Linked DNA regions of Homo sapiens. The protein of the gene in region 1 purifies or fractionates together with the protein of each later gene. This does not show direct contact. Each region holds a gene or a part of one and is shown in the gene's direction. Other genes may lie near its edges.

Region 1 (3,747 bases):
AACAGCAGTTGTGAACTCAGGTTGTTGAAGGTATGGAGCAGAGCATCAACAGTATTACCTCAGCTTCCTTTTAGTGTAGACCTAATGTCAGGTACTGCGAGCTCAGAGCACTGGGGCCTCTGGCAGCCAGGCTTCCTTTCCTGCTGTATTAGTCAGGAGCCTCCAGAGAGATAGAATCATTAGGATGTGTGTTTATGCACACAAACACAGACACACATACAGAATCGGCACTTTGTATCTGCAGGTTCAACCAACCAGCATTGAGGGATGCTGAGCCTGTGGATGAAGAGGGCTGACTTTTTGTATAAGTGGGTTCTGCAGGGTCAACTGACAAACTTGTGTAGAGACAGGGTTTTGCTGTGTTGGCCAGGCTGGTCTTGAACTCCTGACCTCAGGTGATCTGCCTGCCTCGGCCTCCCAAAGTTCTGGGATTACAGACATGAGCCATTGTGCTTCAACTTTAAGTTTTTTAGTCATAATTGTGTAAGCTGAACCAATTAAGATGTCTATGATATTGGCTATCATTTCTGCTGTTAATATTCAGTCCTCTTCAACTAGGGCACAAAAAGATTAGTTTTTTCCTTGCAAAGTGATGTGGATGGTCTGCTGCTGCAGGTGCTATTTTCAATATTGTCTCACTTCTTAAAATGAGTTATCCATTGTAAACTGCTGATTTCTTTGGGTCATTGTCCCCACAAACTTTTTATAAGCCATCAATGATTTCACCATTCTTCCACCCAAGTTTCACCATAAATTTGATTTTTGTTCTTGCTTCAATTTTAGAAGAATTCATGTTGATCTTATAGGGGCTCTTTTCAAACTGATGTCTTACCTTTCTTAGTGCCTCAAACTAGATCCTGTTCAAACACCTTATAACAAGTTAGTAGGAGTTTATTTTGGTGCAAAATAATTCAAAATCCATGCATAGTTTTTTTCATAATATGCATTTTCCATGAACTTTTTGATGACCTCTTGTATGAAAGGGGATTTATTAGGGGAATGAACTCATGCAATTTTGGAGGCTGAGAAATCCCATGACAGACCACCTGCAAGCTGGAGACCCTGGGATGCAGGTAACATGCTCAGTTCAAGTCCTAAAGCCTCAGAACTAGGAAGCCACTGGTGTAATTCTCACTTTGGGATAGAAAGCCTGAGAACCCAGGGAGATGCTGATATTAAGTCCTGGAGTCCAAAGTCTGGAGTTATAATGTCCAAAGGCAGGAGAGAATGCCCCAGCTCCAGGAGAGACAGAAAATCACCTTTTCTCTGTCTTTTCCATGCCATCCATGCCCCCGGCCAGTTGGATGGATCCCACCTACGTTGAGGGTAGATGTTCCCCACTAGTACACTGACTTACACACCAATCTTCTTTGGAAACACCCTCATAGACTTACCCCAAACTAATGTATTACCAGTTCTTTAAGTATTCCTTAAACCAGTCAAATTGACACTTAAAATTTACTATCACGCTACCTATACTAGAGATAGTGATCTAGAGTCCATTGAGGTGGCTAGAGTGCTCAGGAGCTGGCTTTGCTACAGTAATACTCCCTTCTTCCATGGAGAAGCAGCATGCACAGTGGCTCTGAGAAGCTGGAGGAGGGTCACTGGAGTGAGTGGGCTTCTGGTCTGAAATTGACCAAGAATATAGTTCCTGTGGACCAGGAGTGATTAGAAGCTACAGAGGTCTTAAGAGACCTATCCCTCCTCAGTCTACCTTGCACTTACTGAGGGCTCCCACTCTTAGGAATAATTCCATCGTTTCATTTTGTGGCATCAGAGATGAGTCATTGACCCGGAAGAAGTCCCGTAATGTTTCTCAACTCAGTATCTGTGACTATATTTCCTGCTCTTAAAAGTTTAGCATGCCCTCATGTTTCAGGTTGCTTGGAGAAGTCTTAACCATGCTGTTCACATAAAGAGTCACTAAATCCTCTGGCATCAGGAACTAGAAAATATCCTGAGTGTTGGGCAGTGCCAGACTTAGTGAGGCAGAACTTCCTTCCTTGCCCATGTGGATAAAAGGCCTGGGCCCTGTTACAGCCTGTCAGAAAACCCAAGTGCAGTAGAAGCCATTGTTCATAATGGTAGGGATACAGGGTCCTTCGTAACAGATTATCAGTGTGGCCTATGCTGGAAAGTCTGGTGACCTCTGATTTTTTTTGCTTCCAGGTCTTTGGCCTTGGCACTCTTTGTCATATTAGAGTTCCTGGGTCTAGGCCTGGGCAGGATTCATAGGTGCAGCTGCTTCTGCTGGAGGTAGACTGCATCCAACAAAGTAAGGGTGCTGGGTGAGTTCTGGGAGTATAGATTCTGACTGGGGTCACTGCTGGGCTGGCCGCCAGTCTTTCATCTGACCCAGGGTTAAACTGTGGCTTGGGACTGACTCAGGTCCTCTCTTGGGGTCGGTCTGCACATAAAAGGACTCCTATCCTTGGCAGTTCTGAAACAACACCACCACAATGGAAAAAGGTAAAGATCCTCGTGGAAGGGCGAAAAATTGACAAGGGGGTGATATTCTGTGCTCTCATTCTTACTAATTTACATTTTGACTTTCTCAACAGCATTGAAAATTGACACACCTCAGCAGGGGAGCATTCAGGATATCAATCATCGGGTGTGGGTTCTTCAGGACCAGACGCTCATAGCAGTCCCGAGGAAGGACCGTATGTCTCCAGGTGAGTAGCCACGGTCTGTGAAAGGCAGCTCCTTTGGCCAGTGCTGTTGTGTGTTTGGTGCTCAGATGTTATTCCACAGTGGGCTTGTTAACCGGGCATATCTACAGAGAGGAGCATCTCACAGACAATAATGAATAGAGGGTGAGCATAAGGTTGTTCTGGGACTATGGTCATGAAGTCAGAGAAGAGAGAGAAGGCTTAAGGGAGACTGAAGGGTCAGCCTATGAAAAACAGTGGAAGACGTATTCTGAGAAACTTCAAGGAGTAAGAGTAGGACAAAAGAGGGTAATCTATGGGAGGACCAGTTTTTGAATCCATGAAAGACTGACTTTTCTAATGGAAAGTGTTCCCCAAACATAGGATGGGTGTCCCGGTTAGGTGGTGGGTGGTGAGGTGACCATTCTATGAGTGCACTGTGAGTGTCAGTTAGCAGATTCCCTTAAAACTCTGGCTCAGAGGTACCACCCTGGAAATGGCAGCTGAACACCACTTTTCACATCGTGTTCCCAGTCACTATTGCCTTAATCTCATGCCGACATGTGGAGACCCTTGAGAAAGACAGAGGGAACCCCATCTACCTGGGCCTGAATGGACTCAATCTCTGCCTGATGTGTGCTAAAGTCGGGGACCAGCCCACACTGCAGCTGAAGGTGAGTGTGGAAGACAGGTCCTGCCATTTATTTGATGGAAACTCAGATTTCAGGATCTTTTAAAAGACAATGTACTTATTATGCTCATGCATTTTTATTTTTGGTTTCCTTGGGGTTGGTATATGTTATGAAAGACTAAGAAAAATTGCAGGGACATTTTGAAACAAACCTACTAAAATGACTTATTATTTTAATTTACAAAAATATTAATAATTTGGCAAGGATGATGTCTAACTTCAATAGAACACACACACAGAGTAAAATCAGCAAGGACATTTTAGCAGTTAATTATCACAAAGTAGACGAACTTATTAAAACATCTTTTTGGCAAAAAATACATTGCAACTTTAAATGAACAAACATAATTCTCTGTAATAAACACTTCAATAATCGCAATTTTCCATTATTAAAAAAAGATA
Region 2 (3,747 bases), on another chromosome or scaffold:
GTTGACAGGGATAAGCACATACTTATGGGAAGCACATAGCACACACCCCAGTGTGGACTTTATCCAGAGGCAATGAGGAGTTAGTGGATAGTCTTAAGTAGGAGACTAACATGCTCTGACTTGTGTTTGGAGACTATAGAAAAGCAAGGATTATAAACAAGAGTCCAGCTAGCAGACTTTTTTCTTTTCTTCTTCTTACTCTCTTTCGCTATAACTGCATCTCTCCAAAGGTGGGGATCTGAGGCATGTATCCACTGATCCCCGCTCCAATTGGTTGAAGGTTGCCATTGAAAGCAGTCCCTCCTGTGCATTTTGAGATTGCTGTTAGGAGCCAGCTGTGATTGCGGGACAGAAAAACTGAGTCTCCAAAGTGTGCTTGAAGTGGGAACAATGGCAGTGTAAATGGAGCTGTCCACCACAGCTGTGCTGAAATCTGGCAGGCTGACAGGACTTAGCACAGAGTTTTTGCTATAGGAGGCCTTTGCAGTAATCTTAATGAGAAATCATGGTGGCTTGGACCACTGTGGAGGTAGCATTGATAAGATCTGCTGATGGATTGGATAACTCACATGAAAGATAGGAGGGAGGATCATCCCAGGATTTTGAAAGTAATGGAATTTTTACTTACTGAGCTAGAGAAGTGTATGAGAGGAGCAGATTTTTGGGAGTCATGGAGGATGAATTGAGTTTGGTTTGGTTTGGGACATATAAGTTTGAGATACTTATTTGACCTCTGAATGGATAGGTAGTTAATAAGCTGGATACTAGAGAGAGGTCTGGGCTAAAGCTGTATATTTGGGAATCGTCATTTTGTAAGTTGTGTTTACATCTATGAGACTACAGACTCCTTTAATGAATAAGCATAAAGAGGTCTGCTGGGGCACTACAATATTTTCATGTCAAGGAATGAGAAAGGACTAATCAAAGATACAAACAAAGAGGGACCAATGAGGTAAGAGGATAGGAAGAGAGAATGGGTTCCCAGAAGCTCAATGAAGAAAGTATTTCAAGAAGGAGCTGATTAGGTGCTGCTGATGTGTTCTCATTCAGGTTTCAGTTGGAACAAGGGGAATAAAGGGAGGACTGAGGTGTTATATTTAATAATAGTTCACTGGAGATACCAAAACACCTTTGTTGGTGAAATAGTGGGGATGGCACCCTGTTTTCAGTGAGCTTAAGAGAATATGAGGGGAGAGGAATTAGGAAAAAGAGAGTAGAGACAATGCTTTATAAAGGAGTATCGCTGTAAAGTAGATGACTATATAATGACTGATCATGGAATTTAAGTTCAGTAAAGAAGGAGGTGAGAGAAGTGAAAGGTATAGGACCAATGGATTGTAGATCCTGGAGAGGTTAAAGAATTTTTGGAGTAAGGAAACTGGAGAGAGTGAGCTGGAAAAATAGTGGTAGTTGTGAAGAATGAGGTGTTTGAAATTGAGCTTATAGAGGACATGTAGGTACAAGTAAGACTAAATGTGGGAGTTGGTGGCTGAAGGAGGTAGAAGACAAGATCATTGGTGAAGAGGAGGTCAGTGACTTGATGATTCAAGTATAGGAAAGGTTATCTGTATGGGTATTGAAATCATTAAGAATGATGACAGGAAAAGTATTGGAGAGTGATAATAAGGTAGGTGCTAAGTCTTTGTGAAATGTGAGGAAACGACGTGGGCATTTACAGATGAATTCAACAGAGCATGGCGGCAGGTGGTATAGGCTAATGGCATGAGCTGCAGAGGTAGGAGGTTTTAGGGAGGAAGGTGGGGTAATGGCCTGGAAGTGGCAATGGAAAATAAGGAGGATATTCATCCCTCTCTGGCTTCAAGGGGTGTGGAAGAGAAACAGCCACCACTAGAGAAGCCTGCAGGGAAACAGTTTCTCATCCAAGTTTCAGTTAGAGCAAGAAGGGAAAGGCAATGTTCAGAGAAGAGTTTGAGGATATAGTTTATTAATAGTGTTAATAAACTGGTACAGTGGGAAAACTGTTGACTACTTTGGCATATTAGGAATGTTTTAATTAAAGTGGAAAAGAGAAAAATGAAACAAAAATTGGTGGTGTAATAAACAATTGTCACTTTAAAATAATGATTTCATTAATTCCTCAGAAAAGTAAGACTATTTTTCCACATGCTGGTTCTTTGCTTGTTATATCCTCCAATCCCACCTCCCACCAACCCCTCCCTGGTTTGTCCTAGGGAAGGAGCTGGAGAGAGAAAAATATTGAGAGGGATGTGAAATTACTAATGGAGTGAGGGTTTTGTAGAGACAGAAGAGAACAGGATCCTGAGCACAAGCTGAGGTTTTAAGAATGTGTGCATAATTGTGTTAATGGGTCAAAGAGATGGGGAATTGTTTTCCATCTGATGGCTTCTATTTTCTCATTAAAATAGGAAGTAAAGCCATCTGTTTTGTATGATGTAAAAGGGGGCAGGGTTTGGTAGAGGTTGATGTTGCCTTGCTGGAGAATGGGAAATAGCTCACTTGATAAAGAAATATTTCTAGACAAATTATAAAATCTGTTTAGGCTAAGAATTCATTTTGTAAAGGCACCGGTTTCGGTGGTTTGATGAACTTCTCTAGAAGTCTCAGCATACTGGGTACAGGAATGGAATAGCCAGATAACTGGATTAATTCAGATTGGGGTTTGTTGACAGAGATAGAATAAAAGGATTAAGGGCAGAGAACCAAGGAGGCTGTTAGGCAGGTGTTTGAAGGAATGTACTATATAGCATATGATTAAGATATGGAAGGTAGCAGAGATAGAAGGAGACCGAAAAGGAGAAAGAAAAGAATTCAACATTCTGGAGATCTTGATGAGGTAAAGGGATTGGTATATTGGGTTAAGGGCATGAGATACCTGGAAAGACGTGGTGTTTTTCAGGGAATGGGAAGTTGGAATATAAGATTTCAGATGTGGTACAGTTCCAGATAATGACAAAAGTCTGAGATGTGTCTTTTGAAGTGCATGGCTGAAGCACAGTGGAGGAGATAATGTTTGGAGTGAAGGAACTGGAAAAACTGACAGCCTAGATGCTAGAGGATTAGATGGTTTGTCCACATGTATGGTGAAGTCACCAGATATATTGGCAGGAACTGGGATAGACAGGGACCCAGGTGCTGAAGTCTTTAATGAAGGAAGGATGGTGCTTACGAGATAGAAGACAGTGTTGATTGGAGTCGAGGGTGATCTAGCTGGATGGTGGCCTTAAAGCAGCATTACTTTGTAGATGTTTATGTGACTAGAACAGCGAGATGGGTTGAGGTTCTGGTGTATTTGTGTGTATTATTCTTTCCTCACACCATCATATACCTGTTGTTTATCTCTTCTGCTTCTACTTCTTAATTACTTGTAAGATTTTTTAAAAGTCAATAGCTTTATTCATAGAAAATAACTAATGAATAATTGTGACCTTGTTGAGTTTAACGGCTCATTTTTCTTATTTCTTTGTGGAGACTAATACGATTGGTTTACTGGGCAGGAGGAACTAGACATTAGAACACTGCAAACCAAAAATCGCAAGCTGGCAGAAATGTTGGATCAGCGGCAGGCCATTGAAGATGAACTTCGTGAGCACATTGAAAAACTGGAACGACGACAGGCCACTGATGATGCCTCACTATTGATTGTCAACCGATACTGGAGTCAGGTAGCTAACTTGTTTATTTGTTCAGATTTTTATTTGACCAATTTAGTTCTCCTTACTGTTCTCTTCATTTCCAAAGTTGTGTCCTTTGTTTCTTCATAATTGT
Region 3 (3,747 bases), on another chromosome or scaffold:
GTCATTTGGTCGAGTGCGGTGGCTAACGCTTGAAATCCCAGCACTTTGGGAGGCTGAGATGGGCGGATCAACTGAGGTCAGGAATTCGAGACCAACGTGGCCAACATGGCAAAACCTCGATTCTACCAAAAAAGAAAAAAAAAAAAAATTAGCCGGGCCTGGTAGCGCGTGCCTGTAATCCCGGCTACTCAGGAGGCTGAGGCAGGGAGAACTGCTTGAACCCGGGTGGCAGAGGTTGCAGTGAGCCAAGATCGCACCACTGCACTCCAGCCTGGGCGACAGAGCGAGACTCTGTCTCAAAAAAAAAAAATTTTTTTTAAAAAGACAGTGTCATTTGATGGAGTTGCTTTCTTGATCGTTGGCTGCAATTAAAGACCTAGCCTCACTGTCTTTTGTGTTGCCTTGGACCGGCTCTTAGGTTCTACCGCCCTAACAGGCAGTGGAGGCTGGCCTCGAGTGGTAGTCCTCCATCTTGCCCTCTTTTCCTACCCTCTACCCCCAACCCGCGAGCTGCTCTCCTGTCTTCTTCCAACACTGTTCTCTTTGGGAATATGCATGTCCAACTTCCCAAGCAGTCTGGGATCTGGAGTAAGATGACTCTTGGTTTAATGAAGTTTTTCCACAGTGCTTGCATGTGCCCCAAGGGTTTGGAAGGTTGGAGAACTAACAAAAAGCAAAGAGCCATCCTGTGTCGTTTCGGCAGGTCTGTGTTCTGTTAAAATATGGAAGAATTAAGAGAAGAACGAAGAAATAAGGGCAGAAACTCCACTGGGGAGTACTTGTCTAACCCTGAAAAAGTTCAAGGCTGTTGTTCAAGGTCTGAATTTTTCCCTTGAGATTTGCTTGTAGTCCTTAAAGTCATCTTCAGACATCTGATCAAGGCAGCATCCGCGGAAAATTATAAGGTGGGTGGCTGCACTGGAGCCTGTCCTGGCTCAGGGGCGCCGGTGAAGAGTGATTTTTTTCCCTTGGCCTTGGGGGATCAGAGGGGGTGCCCTCTGCTATGCAGGAAGCCCTCCTTGCCCGCTAGATAGTTCTCATTCCTCAGGAGATACTCTGTGAGGGGCCGGCGTGTTTTCTCCATCTTGGCACTTACCCTCAGACCCTCCTAAGTACCCGGGAGGGCCGTGTTTTTCATCGGAGGTTGAAATGGAACCTCCCCCTGGGTGCCCGGGGAGAGTACCTTGGGGGCAGCGCCCCTCCTTCCGGAGGGCAGCATCCCCGCGGGGGCGGGGGCTCGGCTTTGATCCCAGGGCACCTTTTGTCCCTGGAGACGCTCTGCCAGCCAGGTACGTGGAGGGAGTGCAGCCCGCCCTCCCGGGCGACGCGCGGGGCTGGGGCGGGCCGGCGGCTCCGGGGAGTGGCGGCCGGGAGCCCGCGAACGCGGGTGGGCGCCGTCGCCTCACTAACCGGGCGCCTCCGGGAAGTCCGGGCGGGGTCCGCCGCTCACACATAGGATTAGCGTCCTCTAAACTCCATCCCTGGGAAAAGCCGCCGCACTTCTCACCCAAACTCGCGGAGCCGAGGGGCTGGGCAGGGGTTGGGCGGGCGCGGGGGCCGGCGAGGCGGATCCGGGAACGGGTGGACCCGGGCGGCCAAGCCCCTTCAGCGCCGGCCCAACCGCCCCGGCCCGGGCCAGTCCAGCGGGGCGGGGGCCGGCGACACAAAGGCGGCGGCGGGTCCTCCGGGCCTCCGGCCTCGGGCAGTCGCAGGGCGCCCCGGGCCGCCGGACCTCCCCTCGCGTTGCGGCCCGTCAGCCGGCGCCGCCCGTCGCCCGCCCTCAGCCGTCCGGCGAGGCGCGGCTTCCTCCGCCGGCGCGGGGTCCCCTGGTTAACCCCTGCCCGGCAGCGCGGCCGCTGATTGGAGAAGGCGGGGCGCCGGGGCAGCGGGGACCCCCCCCCACCTTCCTCGTCCCCTCCCCCTGCTCCCCCACTGTCGGCGCTTCCCCCACCCCCCCAGGACCCCCCCCGCCTCCCAGCCGTGCAAATCTCGCGAGGAAACACGCGGTTTCACTAGTGTGTTTACACCGATCACTACTAATCCGGACCGAACCGATCCGGATTAAGGGGCCGGAGGCGGGTCCTGGGCACCAGCGGTTCCGACCCCCCCGCCCTCCGCGCCGCACCCGAGTGGCCCCCAGCCGAGCGGGCCCCCACCTCCTGGCCCGGCCTGGGCCCTCCTGCGCCTCCCTTGGCCTTTGTCCGGCGCCAGGAGGCCGGTCCCGCGCCCCCCGCGGCCGCCCGGGCCCGGGCCCGCGTCGGGCGCCTGGCTCTGTACGCGAGCCCGGGGATCTGCGGCCTTCGTGCCCCCCCTCCCCCGCCCGCCCTCTCGTGGAGCCCGGCGCCGGCGGCGGCTGCCCGGGCGGGGGGTTGCGGCGCTCAGGAGAGGCCCCGGCTCCGCCCCGGGCCTGCCCAGGGGGAGAGCGGAGCGGTCCGCAGCCGGGTCGGGTCGGGGCCCCTCCCGGGAGGAGCGTGGAGCGGCGGCGGCGGCGGCGGCAGGTGAGAGGCTGAGCCCCGGGCGGGGGAGGACTCCAGGCCTGGGGCATTAACCGTCCTGGGGACCCCTTTGGCCTGAGGAGCCTGCGACCTGGGCCCAGCTCGGGGCCGGCTCCGGACCGCAGCTCCTGGGCGCTGAGGCGGGAGGGGCTCCCTGAGGGCTGCGGGTCGCTGAGGGGCCGGGCAGAAGATGGGGGAGGCCCAGGCGGCCCCGGCCTGGGATTGGGGCCGGCGGCCGGAGGAGAGACGGGGGCCCCCAGGCAGCTGGAGGCCTCGGCAGCCTCCCGGGCGCCCCCGAGAGCCGGCCCTCCCTTCCTCCGTGACAGGTGGGCCTGGAGTTGGGGAAAGTTTGGAGCCGGCGAGGGGCGCCGGGACCAGGCCCCATCGCTCCTGCTTCCCGGCTGTGGGCTGCAGGGAGGATCCCAGTCCAAGGCCCCGCTGGAATTAGACGGAGTGGCTATTTCCTTAACATGAGTTGACATTAAACGGAATAACCGCCGGGGCGTCATTTTCCGGGCCGGGCCTGGGGATGGAGGTTTGGGAAGTGTTGCGAGAGACCTTGGGGTTTGGGAGAGACTGCAACCTTTGCCATTCCGACCTCGATTAGGGCAGGGCAAGACGCGAGGAAGGCCACGGGGGAAACTCATTCTCCCAGTCTCTTTTTTTTCCTTCTTTTTCTTTTTGTAAAGATGCATTTCAACCTTTCTGAGAATTTCCTAATTCTCTCTCTAACCTGCACTTGCATGTGTGGGTGAAACTTTAATTTGTCACCTTTTCATTCCCCTTTGCCCCAGGCTCTCAATCCAGGAAGGGAAATGAAACTGAAGGACTTGTAAGGGGGTTGTTACTGGAGATTGTAGAGTTGTTGGATTGCAGAGGAGAATGTTCGATTCATCTTTTCAGTAACTTTAAAATCACACCAACCATTCCAACTACTTAATAATGTGTTCGAAGGGGTTCTATGTAATATGTTTCTTTTCCACTGTTAATATTAAAGAGAGGTTTTAAATGGGTCGTGTAGGAGTTGGTCTCTTGCAAAGGATGAACATATTTGCTGAAAGTAGCCTGTGCATTAATTGGTTATGGAAGTTTAAAAATGGTGTCCTCCTGCCCCTCCCTGCTTGGAAGAAGGGCTAAAAGCAGATGTCCAGAATCAAGAGAAAACTACTGCAGGGAGTGGTCAGAAAAAGATTTTTTAAAGGGATTGTTATGGAGCTATATTAATTTACTGAGTGAATGGAGGTGGATGGTT

What was found.
Region 2: the proteins of IL36A (region 1) and RNF20 purify together in Homo sapiens (affinity purification with mass spectrometry; 3 studies listed by BioGRID and IntAct, with this or other methods). This does not show direct contact.
Region 3: the proteins of IL36A (region 1) and TLK2 purify together in Homo sapiens (affinity purification with mass spectrometry; 2 studies listed by BioGRID and IntAct, with this or other methods). This does not show direct contact.

What each region holds. Positions count from the first base shown.
Region 1 is NC_000002.12:113,003,410-113,007,156, forward strand, and holds the start of IL36A (interleukin-36 alpha), read left to right. Parts: upstream 1-2,049; 5' UTR 2,050-2,462; coding exon 2,463-2,472; intron 2,473-2,564; coding exon 2,565-2,678; intron 2,679-3,188; coding exon 3,189-3,328; intron 3,329-3,747. UniProt on the Homo sapiens protein: Cytokine that binds to and signals through the IL1RL2/IL-36R receptor which in turn activates NF-kappa-B and MAPK signaling pathways in target cells linked to a pro-inflammatory response.
Region 2 is NC_000009.12:101,536,727-101,540,473, forward strand, and holds part of RNF20 (E3 ubiquitin-protein ligase BRE1A), read left to right. Parts: intron 1-3,476; coding exon 3,477-3,644; intron 3,645-3,747. UniProt on the Homo sapiens protein: Component of the RNF20/40 E3 ubiquitin-protein ligase complex that mediates monoubiquitination of 'Lys-120' of histone H2B (H2BK120ub1).
Region 3 is NC_000017.11:62,476,793-62,480,539, forward strand, and holds the start of TLK2 (serine/threonine-protein kinase tousled-like 2), read left to right. Parts: upstream 1-2,032; 5' UTR 2,033-2,498; intron 2,499-2,651; exon of another isoform or gene 2,652-2,685; coding exon of another isoform or gene 2,686-2,821; intron 2,822-3,747. UniProt on the Homo sapiens protein: Serine/threonine-protein kinase involved in the process of chromatin assembly and probably also DNA replication, transcription, repair, and chromosome segregation. Phosphorylates the chromatin assembly factors ASF1A and ASF1B.